4 linked regions of the Homo sapiens genome follow. The protein of the gene in region 1 purifies or fractionates together with the protein of each later gene. This does not show direct contact. Each region holds a gene or a part of one and is shown in the gene's direction. Other genes may lie near its edges.

Evidence for each region. The genes of interacting proteins can lie anywhere in the genome.
Region 2: the proteins of RLN1 (region 1) and MAN1A1 purify together in Homo sapiens (affinity purification with mass spectrometry; one large-scale study listed by BioGRID and IntAct). This does not show direct contact.
Region 3: the proteins of RLN1 (region 1) and NAAA purify together in Homo sapiens (affinity purification with mass spectrometry; one large-scale study listed by BioGRID and IntAct). This does not show direct contact.
Region 4: the proteins of RLN1 (region 1) and EDEM2 purify together in Homo sapiens (affinity purification with mass spectrometry; one large-scale study listed by BioGRID and IntAct). This does not show direct contact.

What each region holds. Positions count from the first base shown.
Region 1 is NC_000009.12:5,336,388-5,341,994, reverse strand, and holds the start of RLN1 (prorelaxin H1 preproprotein), read left to right. Parts: upstream 1-2,118; 5' UTR 2,119-2,248; coding exon 2,249-2,459; intron 2,460-2,567; exon of another isoform or gene 2,568-2,632; coding exon of another isoform or gene 2,633-2,733; intron 2,734-5,607. UniProt on the Homo sapiens protein: Relaxin is an ovarian hormone that acts with estrogen to produce dilatation of the birth canal in many mammals. May be involved in remodeling of connective tissues during pregnancy, promoting growth of pubic ligaments and ripening of the cervix.
Region 2 is NC_000006.12:119,182,262-119,185,761, reverse strand, and holds part of MAN1A1 (mannosyl-oligosaccharide 1,2-alpha-mannosidase IA), read left to right. Parts: intron 1-3,500. UniProt on the Homo sapiens protein: Involved in the maturation of Asn-linked oligosaccharides. Progressively trim alpha-1,2-linked mannose residues from Man(9)GlcNAc(2) to produce Man(5)GlcNAc(2).
Region 3 is NC_000004.12:75,917,014-75,920,513, reverse strand, and holds part of NAAA (N-acylethanolamine-hydrolyzing acid amidase isoform 1 precursor), read left to right. Parts: intron 1-538; coding exon 539-605; intron 606-1,724; coding exon 1,725-1,753; intron 1,754-2,740; coding exon of another isoform or gene 2,741-2,816; exon of another isoform or gene 2,817-3,399; coding exon of another isoform or gene 3,400-3,412; exon of another isoform or gene 3,413-3,500.
Region 4 is NC_000020.11:35,130,337-35,133,836, reverse strand, and holds part of EDEM2 (ER degradation-enhancing alpha-mannosidase-like protein 2 isoform 1 precursor), read left to right. Parts: intron 1-2,053; coding exon 2,054-2,195; intron 2,196-3,500. Other genes in the region: MMP24-AS1-EDEM2 (ER degradation-enhancing alpha-mannosidase-like protein 2), read left to right, coding at 2,054-2,195. UniProt on the Homo sapiens protein: Involved in the endoplasmic reticulum-associated degradation (ERAD) pathway that targets misfolded glycoproteins for degradation in an N-glycan-dependent manner.

The sequences.
Region 1 (5,607 bases):
TGGATAAAATGTTCTGCATGTATCTGTTACGGCCATTTTGTCTACAGTGCAATTCAGTTTCAATATTTCCGTATTAATTTTCTGTGTCTTTGATCTGTATGTTGTTGAGAGTGGAGTATTAAAGTCCTCTCTCATTACTGTAGAAGAATCCAGTAGACATGGGTTGGAACCCCACCTCCAGCATGTGACAGCTGTATGCATGGACATATTTGTTGTTTCTCCTTAAAAAGGTTTCCTTTTTGTTTAAAGGACATGAAATGCCTTTTAGTTGTGCCTGTAAAGACTGTGAATCTTGCATTTGCCTGTGATCCTTAGCAGTAGGGTAAGCCCACATCTGGCATATGTGCTGGCCAAAATTACCCTGAACAACTCTCAATCTGTTTCTTCTTTCTGTAAAATGGAAAAGTGGCCACTGTACTGGACAGTTTTAAGGACTCTGTAAAACCATGTAGGCAACATAAAATTTCAAAACATCCCTGGACACTTTGGGAGGCCGAGGCAGGTGGATCACCTGAGGTCAGGAGTTCGAGACCAGCCTATCCAACATGGTGAAACCCAGTCTCCACCAAAAATACAAAAATTAGCCGGGTGTGGTGGTACATGCCTGTAATCCCAGCTACTTGGGAGGCTGAGGCAAGAGAATCGCTTGAATCTGGGAGGTGGAGGTTGCAGTGAGCCGAAATTGCACCATTGCACTCCAGCCTGGGTGACAAGAGCCAAATTCTGTCTCAAAAAAATCACCCAAAAACAAACAAAAAACTCTGGAAATTTACATTTTTAATGAGCAATTAATTTGGAGTACAGCCTAGCACGTGGATTGTTTTTACAAGGACTGTTAACCCACGAAAATATTTTCAAACCTCAGTTTTGAGAGGCCTTTCTCAAACTGTGTGTTTTAGTGAAAATCCATTTAAAATCATTAATTGCCTCTAACCATCTCATAGCTTTGGTCAGGTATTTTTTGAAGAATTACACATTGCTTGGCATTTGACCAATGTTAAGTGGGCCTACTGAAATCACCAGCAATCTAGAAATTAGAATTACTTGATTCCATAGTTATGTTTGTAACTAAGAGATTGTTATTATTTTATTTCAAAGCTACCATAACGTCCTGCATGTCTCCAGTTTATCTGATGGAGCTGAACTAATCTGAGTATATTATGAACACAAGCAAGTAAGTTATTTTTAAAAATGAACCTATTTGTACTAAAAATTTACAGGTAGAAGGGTCGTCTACTAACCATATTATCTAGAACTGTGTGGATCTTTAAAATGCTAAATTAGGTGGTGGTAATAAAAAAAGAATCACCTCTAACCAGGTGCAGCAAACACAAAATACAGTAAACAAATGAACATATCCTTGTGCTGTAATTTGTTATCAAAATATTATTTCTGGGAATGTGGGATGTCCACTGCTTTTTTTCCCCTTCTTCTTTCTCTTCTTCTTTTCTCTCTCTCTTTCTCTCTCTCTGTGTGTGTGGTGTGTTCTCCAGTCTCCAGAGACATAGACTAGAATTTTAAATTAAAATATTTAGACAACTAGTTACAATCAAACTTCTCCCACAGGAGTGGAAGGAAAGTCCAATGGAGAAATTGTTTTGTAAATTAAAGACATTACTGCACAAGCCTAAAATGATGTTACTGGGGATTTTAATCTTTTTACCTGGATTCAGATTAAAAGTCATCAGTTTTCCCTCTCATCAACAATTTATTCATTCATCCATTATATTTTTATGGATTGATATGCCCAACATTATACTAATTAATCCAATTTATAAGGTAATCTATAATCCTATTTAGGTTAGAAGGGTTTTTGGCAAATGTTCACTCTGGAAAACTGGGTTGTAAGAATATTGGCGATCTCAATTTTATTTCTGTGTATGTAAAAAGAAAGGCTTCATATCTAAAATAACTTTACCTAAGTATACAAAGTTGTTTCAGGGTAACAAAAGAGCGAAAAACAAAACTGTAAAAGGGCCAAGGACAGAGGAATGGGCAAATGAAGGAAGGGCGGAGAGGCAGAACAAGAGCTGAAGGAGAAAATTCTGTGGAGGGGTGTGGGAAAGGGGTGGAGCTGGCAACCTTGCCTTAAAAGCTGAGTGATAGCCCATACTAAAGACTGGTTGAGCCGGGTAGGGAAAGCAGCCTAAAGCCCGGGACAGGCACACAGGCCCAGGTGTGTAGGCCACAGCAGCCGCAGTCCTGAAAGGCTGCAACACCCAGACCTCCAGGAGAGACCAGGCCCAGGATGCCTCGCCTGTTCTTGTTCCACCTGCTAGAATTCTGTTTACTACTGAACCAATTTTCCAGAGCAGTCGCGGCCAAATGGAAGGACGATGTTATTAAATTATGCGGCCGCGAATTAGTTCGCGCGCAGATTGCCATTTGCGGCATGAGCACCTGGAGCAAAAGGTCTCTGAGCCAGGAAGATGCTCCTCAGACACCTAGACCAGTGGCAGGTGAGAGCTCCCGCCCCCTCCCGGCCTTCCCGCGCTTCCCATTGGTTACTCTGGGGCGGCCGCCCAATTGGAACGGCGGCCTGCACGTCCGACTCGAGATCTCATTGGCTGCCACCGCTCAGCCCCTACTCAGCCGTGGCTGGTCCCTAAAGTTTGGGCTTTTCCTTTGCCAGGTGATTTTATTCAAACAGTCTCACTGGGAATCTCACCGGACGGAGGGAAAGCACTGAGAACAGGAAGCTGCTTCACCCGAGAGTTCCTTGGTGCCCTTTCCGTAAGGCAGTCAGAGCGACGGGGTGGAAAGGGAGGGGAAGCCTCAGAGGAGGTGACGCCGCCCGGAGACCCGCAGGAGGCCGGGCGCACTCCTGCACCCCACAGGAAAGCCAGGCGGCCAGACAGCGGGCGTGCTGGTGGGGGCACCTGAACAGGGCTTCTCGGATAGAGAGGAGAGGGGACAAACACTGAGGCGGCGCGCTAGTTATCAAGCCTGTTTGCGCGCCTGTAGGACGGGGCAACACTCTGAGGTCTCTGTGAGGGTCCCGTGATGGGAAGACAGGAAGGGCCTTACACTTAATGACTCTCCTAGTCCAGAAGTTGGGCTGTGGCCTTTGCCATTGGAAACGTTCTTTAAAATAAACAAACAGAAAATCCCAAAGGAAAGAGTCTGACCTCCCGCTTCTTTGATCTGGGTATTGAAGTTCATTTGTGAGGCAGGGGATGGAAGAGAAAGGAAAGGCTTGAATGCCTTTAGGAGAAACTCAAGAGGACCAGAGACAAGGAAAGCAGGCCGTTCAGACCATCATAGCTGAAGACCCTACTGATGCTTTCAAGCATTTGGAAGCTGCAGTGGGTTTGCTTTAAAGGCAAGCTCTTAGAGTTGAGTACAGCTCAATCTGAAATGGCTTTTAAAAATATTTTAGTATTTATAAAGTAGCAGTGGAAACTCATGGAGGTATATACTAGTCTAAGAAGTGTAACGGGTCATATTAAATTCAGAGAAAGTAACCGCAGTTGCAAATACTAAGTGTTTTGTATTAGTATGACATGTAATTTATGATAAACCGCAACTAAATTTTATAGGCTATATGCATATACTATATATAAATGACTCTAACAGAAATACATTTACTTCTCTTTTATGAGATTTAAAGTATGCTTCTAAAGTTATTTACTTTTCTACATTGTTAGAGTTTGATTTATTTAATGGCAGTTTTTACATGACTTTTGTATAACATTAGTACAAAAATACCACAACGTCTAGGAATTTAGTGATAAAAAGTAGAGAAGACCGGATTGCATTGCATTTGCTTTATTATTCCACATTTTCTGACTATAAAAGTAGTAATGCTCATATTAAAGACAAATGTACATTAATGCAGCGTGAAAAATGAGAAGCACTCGTAGATATTAAGGACTTTGAAAAGTATATGTGAATTTTATGAGAAAATGAAATTATATTAAACAAGTAAGTGGAAAGAAATGTTAACATTTGGATAGGTATATGTATATATCTTTTGCATTTTCACTCACCATTATACTTTGAGCAGTTTCTCACATTGTTATTATCCCAAAACATAATTTGAAATTCCTGTGTAGTATTTTTGTCATAAATCTGCCACATAAACTTAAAGATTCTTTGGTGGATATTTAGTTTATTTCTAAATTGTTGCTGAAAATCATTAATCACATTTGTATATAGATATTTAGCTACACTTTTATTTCTTTAGAAGAGACATGAGATTTCAAAGTATTTTTAAAGAATTTTCTTTATTGCTATGCAGTATAATTTAACTGAAAGTAACCTCAGAAAATATTGCCTGCACGTGGGATTAAGATAAATGTTTACCGTTACTAGGTAGGAATCGCTTTGGAAGTACATGTCAGTAATTTGTGATTAATATGAGTTTTCAGACTTATACTGTTAGGTAATTGCTACTTGCTTTCACGTTATTACACTGTTAGATAACCATTTTATCTTACAATGTGTGCCAAAGTAATATTCACTGCATCCCTTTTAAAAATAAGATCCGCTTTAAACCAGAGATCTATTTCAGTAAGATTTGCATCCAAAATACAGTGAATTAAGGGTATTTGCATGAATTCAGACAGAATATTTTCTCTGAGCCTAGGTTCCATAGCTAAAAGTGTTATGGATTATGAAATATTTCAAAACAGGTTTAAAAATATAATTTTAATAAAAGTTCAAAACACACAGCCTATGAATAAACTGAATACAATCTATAACTGTTTTGGCTGATTCATTTAACTGGCTTTAAGTATACAGAAAATTACCATCAGCTTTTTTCAGCATTTAATAAGACTGCAACTACAGACAGTTTAGGTTGGAGCACAGAGACGTTTTTATGAGGAAATTGAATTAAACTTAGGATGTCTTAATGAGGGAAAATGCCAAAACCTGTCATTTAACCAAAAATGATATAAATTCTCATCTGTCATTTCCAGTTTAGAATGTGGATGAGCGAGAGTGTTAGGGGCAAAGACAAAATACTACAGGTTTTTTGTTTTGTTTTGTTTTGTTTTGTTTTTTATTGCTCTGTCAAACTCCAACTGTTGAAGTTTGTTGTTGGTAAAAGGAGAACAACTGATTCTTTTGCCACAAAACTCAGGAAATGATCAGCCCCAGAACTACCGCTGTCTAGGTGAAGGGTCGTGGTTTCCTCTGATCAGCAGGCATCAGTGGTTAACCAGGTGTCTGCCTCCCGCACTTAGATTTACTCCTCTCTTCTCTTTCTTTTCATTATTTCAAGAGTAATGCCTTGGTATTGGATAGTTTTCCTGTCCAAGAAGAAGAGCAGCAAGACCTGATCTGAGTTTACACTATAATTTAAACATTGTCAGTGTTTATTTCTTTGTGAAATAAAACTCTTAAATTGTATAATTAGGATAATTAAGGTTAGGAGAGAGTTTAGCTCACTGTAAGTTTTTTGACAGCAAGAAACATTTTTAAAAATTTATATCTTTTAACTGGCAGTGCCAGAGACACAAAAACAGGTAATGAATGTTCAACGGAGCTGAATGGGTACAAAGATGGAGTAAGATGTCAGCTGGGTGTCCAGCAGGTTCCCAGCCCAAGTCCCAGCCTTCACATTTGGCCAGCCTGGGATGCTGTGTAAGAACAGGCCCTTCC
Region 2 (3,500 bases), on another chromosome or scaffold:
TAAAAGTACAAAAAAAAATTAACCAGGCGTGGTGGCGGGCGCCTGTAGTCCCAGCTACTCAGGAGGCTGAGGCAGGAGAATGGCATGAACCCAGGAGGCGGAGCTTGCAATGAGCCGAGATCACGCCACTGCACTCGAACCTGAGGGACAGAGCAAGACTCCAACTCCAAAAAAATAAAGAAAAACTGGCTTATATTGAAATTATGGTCAGTGTTAGCTTCTCCATTTGCTACCGTTGAGTCACATCTCCTTTGCACTGTGCTTTTTCACCCATACTTTCAGTTTGTAAAGTATTTGTAAGCCGTCTTCCTATCTTCTAACAAAGCACTCCCTTCCCAGCCTTCTTTCACTGATACACTTGAGAAACCTGCTTTCTGTGTCTTAATTAAATTTCTAATAATAATGTCAAATAAGATGTGAAAAGGTATATAATCCAGCAGTACAACACTAGAGAGTTCTTTTGTGGGTTAACAGCACTCCATTAATCACAGGTGTTCAAGCACTTGTGAGTCTGCCTGACAGAAATAATATTTAACTGATAATTTCTTTTGCTTTTTCTCAAAAATGTCATGAAAGCCAGGCGTGGTGGCTCAAGCCTGTAATCCCAGCATGTTGGGAGGCCGAGGTGGGAGGATGGCTCAAGGATAGGAGTTTGAGATCAGCCTGGGCAACAAGTCATCACCCTGTCTTTACAAAATTTAAAAATTAGCCCGTCATGCTGGCACACTCCTATAGTCCCTAGCTACTCAAGAGGCTGAAGAGGGAGGATCACTTGAGCCCAGGAGTTCAAGGTTATTTTGAGCTAAGATCACACCGCTGCACGCCAGCCTGAGCAACAGAGCGAGACTCTCTTGAAAATTTTAAAAAAAAAAATCATGAGAAACTGACAAATTCCTTCCATTTAAACATCTGATAACTTACAGCATGAGCTTTATCAGAATATTGTATGTATATATTCACATAGATTATATAATGTCTCAGCTGATCTATGGTAAAGGGTAAAGCCTTACCTAGGGATTTGGGATTTTTTTTTGGCTTTAGGGGGTTTTTTTTTGGTAGTTTCAGGTTTTTTGGTTTTGTTTTTTTGCACAGACATTTTCTTTGCTCTTCTAAACCTAACCTTTTCCACTCAGACATTTCGACTCTCAGGAAGTGACTTCTTTTCCTCCTTCCTACTCCTGCCTCCTCAGGCTTCATCCTGTTTCCAAACCCTCTTTGATTTGTTCAAGGTGCCTGATTCTCTGTGTTCTATCCTTGAGTTCAGACGACACTCAAGCAGACAGCCTTACTCCACGGATCAGCCATTTATATATCTGGTAGGCAAGAGAATACTCTTCTGTCCTCTGACTTAGGATTTAACTCATGATGCTTGCTATTTTCTTACCTACCCTTCATCCTTTGTTTAGAGCTCCAATCATTATAAACATTCTCATATCCTGTTCTCTGCTATTTGCACATCCCAGTCACATAGGATCACTAATAATAGAAGCATTTACTCAAAACCAAGGTGGTCCCCATGCCTAGAGGCTGAGAATCCCAAGAACAGATTATAGTACAATGATGATCTGGTTAGACTTAGTCATACAAACACATGACAGCTTCCACTGTTGAGATGCTGATAGAATCAGGGCTGTTGTAAGGGCCCAGGAAAGCTATTTGTCCCCAGCTTCACGTTCCTAAAGTCTTAAAATCTAGACTTTTGCGTAAGGGGTGAGGGGGAGTTCTTGGGTGCTTTTCCTTTAAAAAAAAATTTTTTTTTTTTAATTTACCAAAAACTTCAAAAGCAAAGTGACTGGGCCTCTCTAAACCTCTGAAGCCCTTGTTATTGTCTAAGCATTTCTTCATTTTGTTTTATTCTCACGTACAACCCCATGTTGAGAAGGAAGATGCTGCCTGGGACATGGAACCTCTGGGGCCACTGATAAGGGGGTCTCAAGCTGGAAGTTGGCCCACTACTCAAAATTTTTGGCTGTGTTCTTGAATACTATAGCTTACCCCAAGAGGACTTGTGGGGAACAAGAATGAGAGGGTGAACTAGAAAGAAAGGTGATTAGGCATTGTCCACCCCAAAAGCAACTCCTCTAACAAAAGAAGGAGCTTAGAGCAGTTTCCATGGAGAGGAGGAGTGGCTGTTTATCATGGCTGGCCCTCTCATTAGCTCATTACCAAAAAACCTCAAGGGAACAACTAAGAAAAGGTTTTGGGATTAAAATCTGTTTAAAGAAATATCCGGAAATAGGGTTTCCCATAAAAACCTTGCCCATTTTTTCTAAATTCTGATTTTTTTCCTTTTTTTAACCAATAATTTTTGGCTTATTCTACATATCTGGTATTTGACTCTTTGTCAAAAAAAAAGGAGGAAAGAAAAAATAATAGGACTTGAAAGTTTCTTTCTTCATGCTCATCCTCCATTTGACGCACTGTCTGGAACTTAGAATTTAATCGAAGCATCTGTTTTTAAGTTGATCGGTCTTATTTTCTTCGGGGCTTTTTAAAAGTATGAAATCATGAGGCATTTTCTTTATTTTCTTTATTCATGTGGCCTGCTGGCCAGAATTTCTTTAACCAGGTAATTAAATGCTTCTCCTCATAGTCTCTCTGCTCTCTCCCTTCTGTCCTCCAGCCCTGATGTGAAAAATCAATAACCTCATTATCAGTATCTGCAGATGGGAGCTGAGCTCTCAGTGCAACATCTCTGCTCATGAGAATCCGTGGCTGGTACTTACTTTCCCTCGCCTCTTTTCTGGGCTCTACATTCTTAGAGCCTTATTTTCCTCCAAAATCCTTTCTAGCCAGAGAAGGTTTTTCTCAACTGATAAGGCAAAGTCTATGCTTTCCATCTTCTTGGTAGTTGGATTAAATGGGAGAAAAATGGGGTACAATTATATATGTAAAAAAAAAAGAGGGACAGAATTATGATCCACAGGGGAAAACTGAAACGTAAGTGAAAAATGACATGAGAAACTAAGAGTAAGTATATCTTGTTTACATTTTCTTTATTTCACTATAAAATATATTAGGGTTTTAGTCTTAAACTTTATTATTTTTGTCTACAGTCAATAAATGAGAACCAGATTGCAGATGGCAATTTTTGTACGATGGAAATTTTTATTTGACCATATAATTAATAGGATTAGTAGGATGTGATGGCAGAAAATAACTTTCCTAGAGATGAATATGCCTGGTAACTAGCAGAGCAACAAATGTAATTTCAAAATATAAACAGCACAAAAAAAAAAACAACTCAAAATGAATTAAAGACTTAAATGTAAGACCTGAAACCATAAAACTCCTAGGAGAAAACAACAGGGGAAAAGCTCCTTGACATTGAGCTTGGCAATGATTTTTTGGATTCGACCCAAAAACACAGGCAACAAAAGCAAACATAAACACATGAAACTACATCAAACTAAAAAGTTTCCTTACAGCAAAGGAAACAATCAACTAAAAACACAACAAAAATGTGTGCAAACCATATATCTGATAAGGGGTTAATATCC
Region 3 (3,500 bases), on another chromosome or scaffold:
GGAGCCCTAGAGCCCACCACCAGCTCTGCTAGTGACTCACTGGGTGGCTCTCGGGCCTCTGTTTACCAGTCTGTAAAATGAAAGCAAAGGGCCAGGTTCATGGTCTTCTAGGCAAGATATTTTTAGAAGGAAATTATTTCCCTTATTTAAACAATAAATAAACCAGTCAAGGGTTTTTATTGTCCCTTCAAGTTGTAAACATTCTATAATTATAAGTCAGCACAGTTCCAAAGTGCAGGTAGCTATATACGTTGCCTTGGCTTTACTACCCCACAAGTTTGGCCACTGTTCAGTTCTGCAGCCACACATTTTCATCATCCCAGCTTTCTGGAGCAGATGGTGCCAACCGTCCCAGCTGCTGGATGAATTCCACTGTGGTGGGCTGGGCCTCAGCAGGAAACAGGCTTGGGGCCAGAATCTGTTTTGGAGAAAGGGAGATAATGAGACTGGAGCTTGCATTCTGCCTCCCAAAAATGACAGCTGATGGGCTTCAGTGCTTGTTGAAATGCCAAGTGACCTTCGACCTTTGTCCTTACAGAACATCTGCCATCAAGGCCCTTAATGCTACAGGACAAGCAAACCTCAGCCTGGAGGCACTTTTCCAGGTAACTTGTGTCACAGTGTCCTGCATACCTAGGATGTTTGGTGTTTTGTTAATAGTGAATATGAAAAACTCCGTGAAATCTTCTGGTAGATGAAAACGTTAGGGTAAAAGTTTTATTTGGTTGAAATCATGTATTAAAAGTGGTGGCTCACACCTGTAATCCCAGCACTTTGGGAGGCCTAGGCAGGCAGATCACGAGGTCAGGAGATTGAGACAATCCTGGCTAACACAGTGAAACCCTGTCTCTACTAAAAATACAAAAAATTAGCCAGGTGTAGTGGCGGGTGCCTGTAGTCCAAGCTACTCCAGAGGCTGAGGCAGGAGAATGGCGTGTACCCGGAAGGCGGAGCTTGCAGTGAGCCGAGATTGCGCCACTGCACTCCAGCCTGACAGAGCGAGACTCCGTCTCAAAAAAAAAAAAAATTATATGACATTTTCTCAACTTGCTTTTATATAAGTTAAAATGTCCATCTTCACCAAAGTTTTTCTTTATATTAAAAAGAAAAAGTCATAGTTGTAATATATGTTCATTGTTTAAAAGAAAAAAAGAGAAAGAATTAAAAAGTCAGGCCGGATGTGGTGGCTCACACCTATAATCCCAGCACTTTGGGAGGTCAAGGCAGGAGGATCACTTGAGGTCAGGACTTCGAGACCAGCCTGGCCAACATGGTGAAACCCCGTCTCTACTAAAAATATATAAATTAGCCAGGCTTGGTGGTGTGTGCCTATAATCCCAACTACTTGGGATGCCGAGGCAGGAGAATCGGTTGACCCTGGGAGGCGGAGGTTGCAATGAACCAAGATCATGCCACTGCATTCTAGCCCAGGTGACACAGCAAGACTGTCTCAAAAAAAAAGTCTATATCACCTCAAGGTACACTAAAGAGTGGTTATGTTCTTTCTACAGACATTCTTTTTTTTTCTTTTTTAGTAAAGACAGGGTCTCTCTATGTTGCCCAGGCTGGTCTTGAACTCCTGGGCTTGAGTAATCCTCCCACGTCGGCTTCCCAAAGTGCTGGGATTACAGGCCTGAGCCACTGCACCCGGCCCTCCATAGATATTCTATGTGTATTTCTTCTACCATGTAATCTTCTCTATAAAATGACTTTTTCCTATGCAGATTTTGTCGGTGGTTCCAGTTTATAACAAGTAAGTGGCTTGTTAAACATGTCTGTTCACACATCACTCCAGAACAGTGAACTCACTCACGTACTGTTTGGCTCAGCAAGGATCTGAGGGCTCCTGTAACCAGGCTGTGGGGGCACTCCTGTGGGGGCACTCCTGTGGGTACAGCTGCGAGCAAAACAAAGTCTCTGCTCTCATGGGACTAATATGGGTGGGGTGGGGGTGGTGGTGATAAACAAATATAAATCAGGTGAGAAGTCCATGAAGAAATCCAAAGGTAAAAAGAATAGAGTGACCCTGAAGGAGGCTCTGGGAATTTTTTTTTTTCTTGAGCCAGAGTCTCGCTCTGTCACCCAGGCTGGAGTGCAGTGGCGCAATCTCGGCTCACTGCAAGCTCTGCCTCCCAGGTTCACACCATTCTCCTGCCTCAGCCTCCCAAGTGGCTGGGACTACAGGCTCGTGCCACCACGCCCAGCTAATTTTTTGTATTTTTTAAGTAGGGACAGGGTTTCACCGTTTTAGCCAGGATGGCCTTGATCTCCTGACCTCATGATCTGCCCACCTCGGCCTCCCAAATTGCTGGGATTACAGGAGTGAGCCACTGCGCCCGGCCAGCTCTGGGAATCTTAAATTCAAACTTGGCCTTCCATAGTGTTGTCAAACTAGAAGGAAAAACACTTTGACTGGCTGACCTCTTGATTCCTACATTTGAAATATTCTGGCAGTGAGGTGTTCATCCTAACTCAGTCAGGTAGCTGTGGACAGCCTTCACCTGTTAGGAGCTCCTTAGAAATAAATTCTGAATACCTTTGGTTTTCTTTTATCCTCCGGAGGAATTTCCACTATCTCCGAAGCTGTTCCTTGTTCCACTGACAATTCGCTTAGTTAATGTTCTTTTTTAGCCTGTACCCTTGATAGCAGCATTCTGTGAGCAATGGTTTCTCTAGTGTATAGCCTAGGATTTTACTCACATTCTTTTTAATTTCTTTTTCTTTTTTTTTTTTTTTTAAGTGAAAGCAGGCCAGGTGCGGTGGCTCACGCCTGTAATCCCAGCCCTTTGGGAGGCCAAGGCGGGTGGATCACTTGAGGTCAGGAGTTCAAGACCAGCCTGGCCAACATGGTGAAACCTCGTCTCTACTAAAAATACAAAAATCAACCAGGCATGACGGTGCACGCCTGTTATCACAGCTACTTGGGAAGCAGCGGCTGGAGAATTGCTTGAACCTGGGAAGTCGAGGCTGCAAGTGAGCTGAGATCATGCCATGGCAGTCTAGCCTGGGCAACAGAGCGAGACTCTGTTTCAAAAAAAAAAAGAAAAGAAAACTAATTAGTCAGTATTCTGCTACTCAAACAAATGAGCTATTTGGATAACAAAGCATACCCAGTGGTCTGCTAGTAAACCAGCTCTTTGTGTGGGAAGGGACAAATGAAAAAATTCCCAAATTTGTAGCATTTGTTGACTTCCATGGTGTGAATACTCCCACATGGCTGATTTCAGGCTTATAGTTGGCTCATACACTTCCTGCATATTTAATAATTGGCCCTCACCAGACTGTAGGAGCTAGCTCCAATGCACTATTGACTGTACCCTTCATAGCGGGGCACAATGTTGCCCTTTTAATAGTCATTTTTTAAATGGGGGTTAATAAACTACTTTTGTGTTCTTATAGTTTTTTTAGGTAATTATAGAAGTGATGAATATATCTGGCTGGGCGCAGTGGCTCACATCTGTAATCCTAGTACTTTGGAAGCCGAGGCGGGTGGATCACTT
Region 4 (3,500 bases), on another chromosome or scaffold:
CTAATCCAGCTTGAAAAGTAAAGCTTGTGTGAGGACTCCCCGAAAATCCCTTAAGAAGGTGCCCCCCTAAGGCTGGGTGCGGTGGCTCACGCCTGTAATTCCAGCACTTTGGGAGACTGAGGCGGGCGGATCACCTGAGATTGGGAGTTCGAGACCAGCCTGACCAACATGGAGAAACCCCATCTCTACTAAAAAATACAAAATTAGCCGGGCGTGGTGGTGCATGCCTGTAATCCCAGCTACTTGGGAGGCTGAGGCAGGAGAATTGCCTGAACCTGGGAGGTGGAGGTTGGGATGAGCCGAGATCGCGCCATTGCATTCCAGCCTGGGCAACAAGAGCGAAACTCCATCTCAAAAAAAAAAAAAAGGTGCCCCGCTGGAGACCTGTAGTAAATCCCTTAGTCCATCTCAGGCAGGTTTTGCTCCAGCAGTGGGACCGTAGTAGACTCTGTTGGTGCCATGCCCATATCCTCTCAACTCTTAACATTTCCATGCACACTGGCCAGTCTTCCAACTGCCATCACCTGCGCCTCTTTGCCTGTGGGTCTCCTCTGGTGCCTGGAGCCACTCTGCTTGCCTTTGGCTGAGGGTACCAGGATTTAATGCTACCCATGAGTAGCTCTCAAGCCGGTAACTGATACTGATGGGAGTTGGTGGATAAACATTCCAGTTCCCTGCCCCTTGGGTGGGATCACTCCGAAGCTGGAGCTCTACACTGAATTCCTAAGCTCCCCAGCAAGATTGAACTCCAGTTCCCATGGTGGAAACCTGCCTGATGGCATACCCCTTAAATGCCGCCTCCCTTGCCCTGCCTCACTTCCCCCTCCTCTACTGGTGTTTACAAGGACTTACCTTCCAAATCAACTACTTTCAGGCAGAATGAGGTTGTGCTCCTGGGGGGACACAAACCAACGCGGAACAGTTAGCTATTTCTTTGAGTACCAGATGAAGTTACCAGCTTCCATGAGGGTCTAAGCCATATGAAAAATACATATATTTGGCTGGGCGCAGTGGCTCACGCCTGTAATCCCAGCACTTTGGGAGGCCAAGGCAGGCGTATCACCTGAGGTCGGGAGTTCGAGACCAGCCTGACCAACAGGGAGAAACCATGTCTCTACTAAAAATACAAAAAATAAAATAAATACAATAAAATAGAAAAATACGTATCTTTGTTTATTTTTTTGAGACAGAGTCTCCCCCTGTCGCCCAGGCTGGAGTGCAGTGGCACGATCTCGGCTCACTGCAACCTCCCCCTCTTGGGTTCAAGTGATTCTCATGCCTCTGCCTCCTGAGTAGCTGGGATTATAGGCACACACCACCATGCCTGGCTAATTTTTGTGTTTTTATTAGAGACAGGGTTTTACCATGTTGGCCAAGTTGGTCTCGGACTTCTGACCTCCAGTGATTTTGCCCCCCTCAGCCTCCCAACGTGCTGGGATTATAGGCATGAGCCACCGCGCCTGGCCGGCATTGCCAATTTTTCACAGTCTCTACAGAGACTGAACAATTAAAAAAAAAAAAGTCAAAGGATACAAAAAAGGGTACTCAGTGACATTGGTGAAGTCCCCTTTTGCCCCTGTCTCCAGCTATTCGGTTTCTCTCCTTAGAACCACTCTGTCAGCTTCTTGGTGGATGTTCTTATTGAGTTAATTTATGGAAATACGTAAAGCACGTCTGTGTCTTCAGATAGTGGAATCACATGCTGGGTGCTGAGAAATCAGACAGATTGCGGCAACAGCAAATTCTCATCTCCCATCTCACACTCACTCTAGGCAGGACATAAACACTCCAAATCATTTTTCTTTTTCATTTTTTGCTCAATGTGTATAATTAAGTCCTCATAAATGTGCATGAGATGCATCTCTACTATGCAGATGTACAGGAAGGCTGGCCATGATCCAGCATTGCCCTTCCCTCTCAGGGTCTGCATGTTTCCCAAGAAGCACTGGGGCACCTGCCCTGCATCTCCCTGGGCAGTCAGGGTTGGGGGTGAGTAGATCCTTCTTTGGCCATCGGCCTTCCCGTTGGGACCGTGTGTCTTTCTCTCTCTCAGGTCGGCAACCACATTGATGTGCTCACTGGCAAGTGGGTGGCCCAGGACGCAGGCATCGGGGCTGGCGTGGACTCCTACTTTGAGTACTTGGTGAAAGGAGCCATCCTGCTTCAGGATAAGAAGCTCATGGCCATGTTCCTAGGTAAAAATGGCAGAGTAAGGGAGCTTTTCCCCTCATTTTTCTTGCTGATGTGTGATTTGTTTAAAAACTTTTTTTTGAGACAGAGTCTTGCTCCATCTCCCAGGCTGGAGTGCAGTGGCACAATCTAGGCTCACTGCAACCTCTGCCTCCCAGGTTCAAGTGATTCTCATGCCTCAGCCTCCTGAGTAGCTGGGCATGTGATGGTGTGGACTACAGGCGCACACCATCACATCCAGCTAATTTTTGTATTTTTAGTAGAAACGGGGTTTCACCATGTTGGCCAGGCTGGTCTCAAACTCCGGACCTCAGGTGATCTGCCCGCCTTGGCCTCCCAAAGTGTTGGGATCACAGGTGTGAGCCACCACGCCTGGCCTGAGTGCCTGCAGAATCAGTTCTGAATTCAGAGTCACTATGGACTTACACTGCCCACTTCATGCCCACTACAGCACTTGATGCCTTCTTGCAAAAGCCAACTGAAGCGTGCTGCATTCTGTGTATGTAGCCCTGGATTTCTTATCTCCTGGCCATTGCACATGGCATCTTCTTTGCCTAGAATGTCTTTTTTCCTGTCTTCCTATGTCCAAATTCTTTTCACCCTTCAAAGCCTAACTTAAATGTCGCCTTGCCCAGGAAGTAGCTTGATCCTTCTACAGAATTTGGGACCTTCAGCATCTTTCTTGCAGTTAGCTCTCATCAACAGTTACAGCTCTACAAATTGAATGCAGAATCCATGCCTTACTCATCTTATGTTCCCCACAGTGCTTTACATGTGGTAGGTAATAGATTAATACCTGTTGAATAAATACATCTTACCCGCCAGGCCCTTAGACACTAGCAATCTTGAGGAATTGTTGAGCACCTAATTACTATTATTATTATAGCTACAGTAGTCCCCCGTTATCCACAGTTTTGATTTCCATGGTTTCAGTTATCCATGGTCAACTGCAGTCTGAAAATAGGTGAGTACAGTCAGATACGATATTTTGAGGCTGGGTGCAGTGGCTCACGCCTGTAGTCCCAGTTTTTTGGAAGTGAGGATTGTTTGAGGCCAGGAGTTTGAGACCAGCCTGGGCAATATAGTAAGACCCCCTCTCTAAAAAAACAAAGATATTTTGAGGCACTAAATTTACATAATTTCTTTTTTTCCTGTCTCTTACCAAAAAGACAAATTCACATAACTTCTATAACATATATTGTTATACTTGTTCTGCTTTATTATTAGTTATTGTTGTTAATCTCTTCCCATGCCTAATTTATAAATTAAACTTTTTCGGCTAGGCACAGTGGCTCATGCCTTTAATCCCA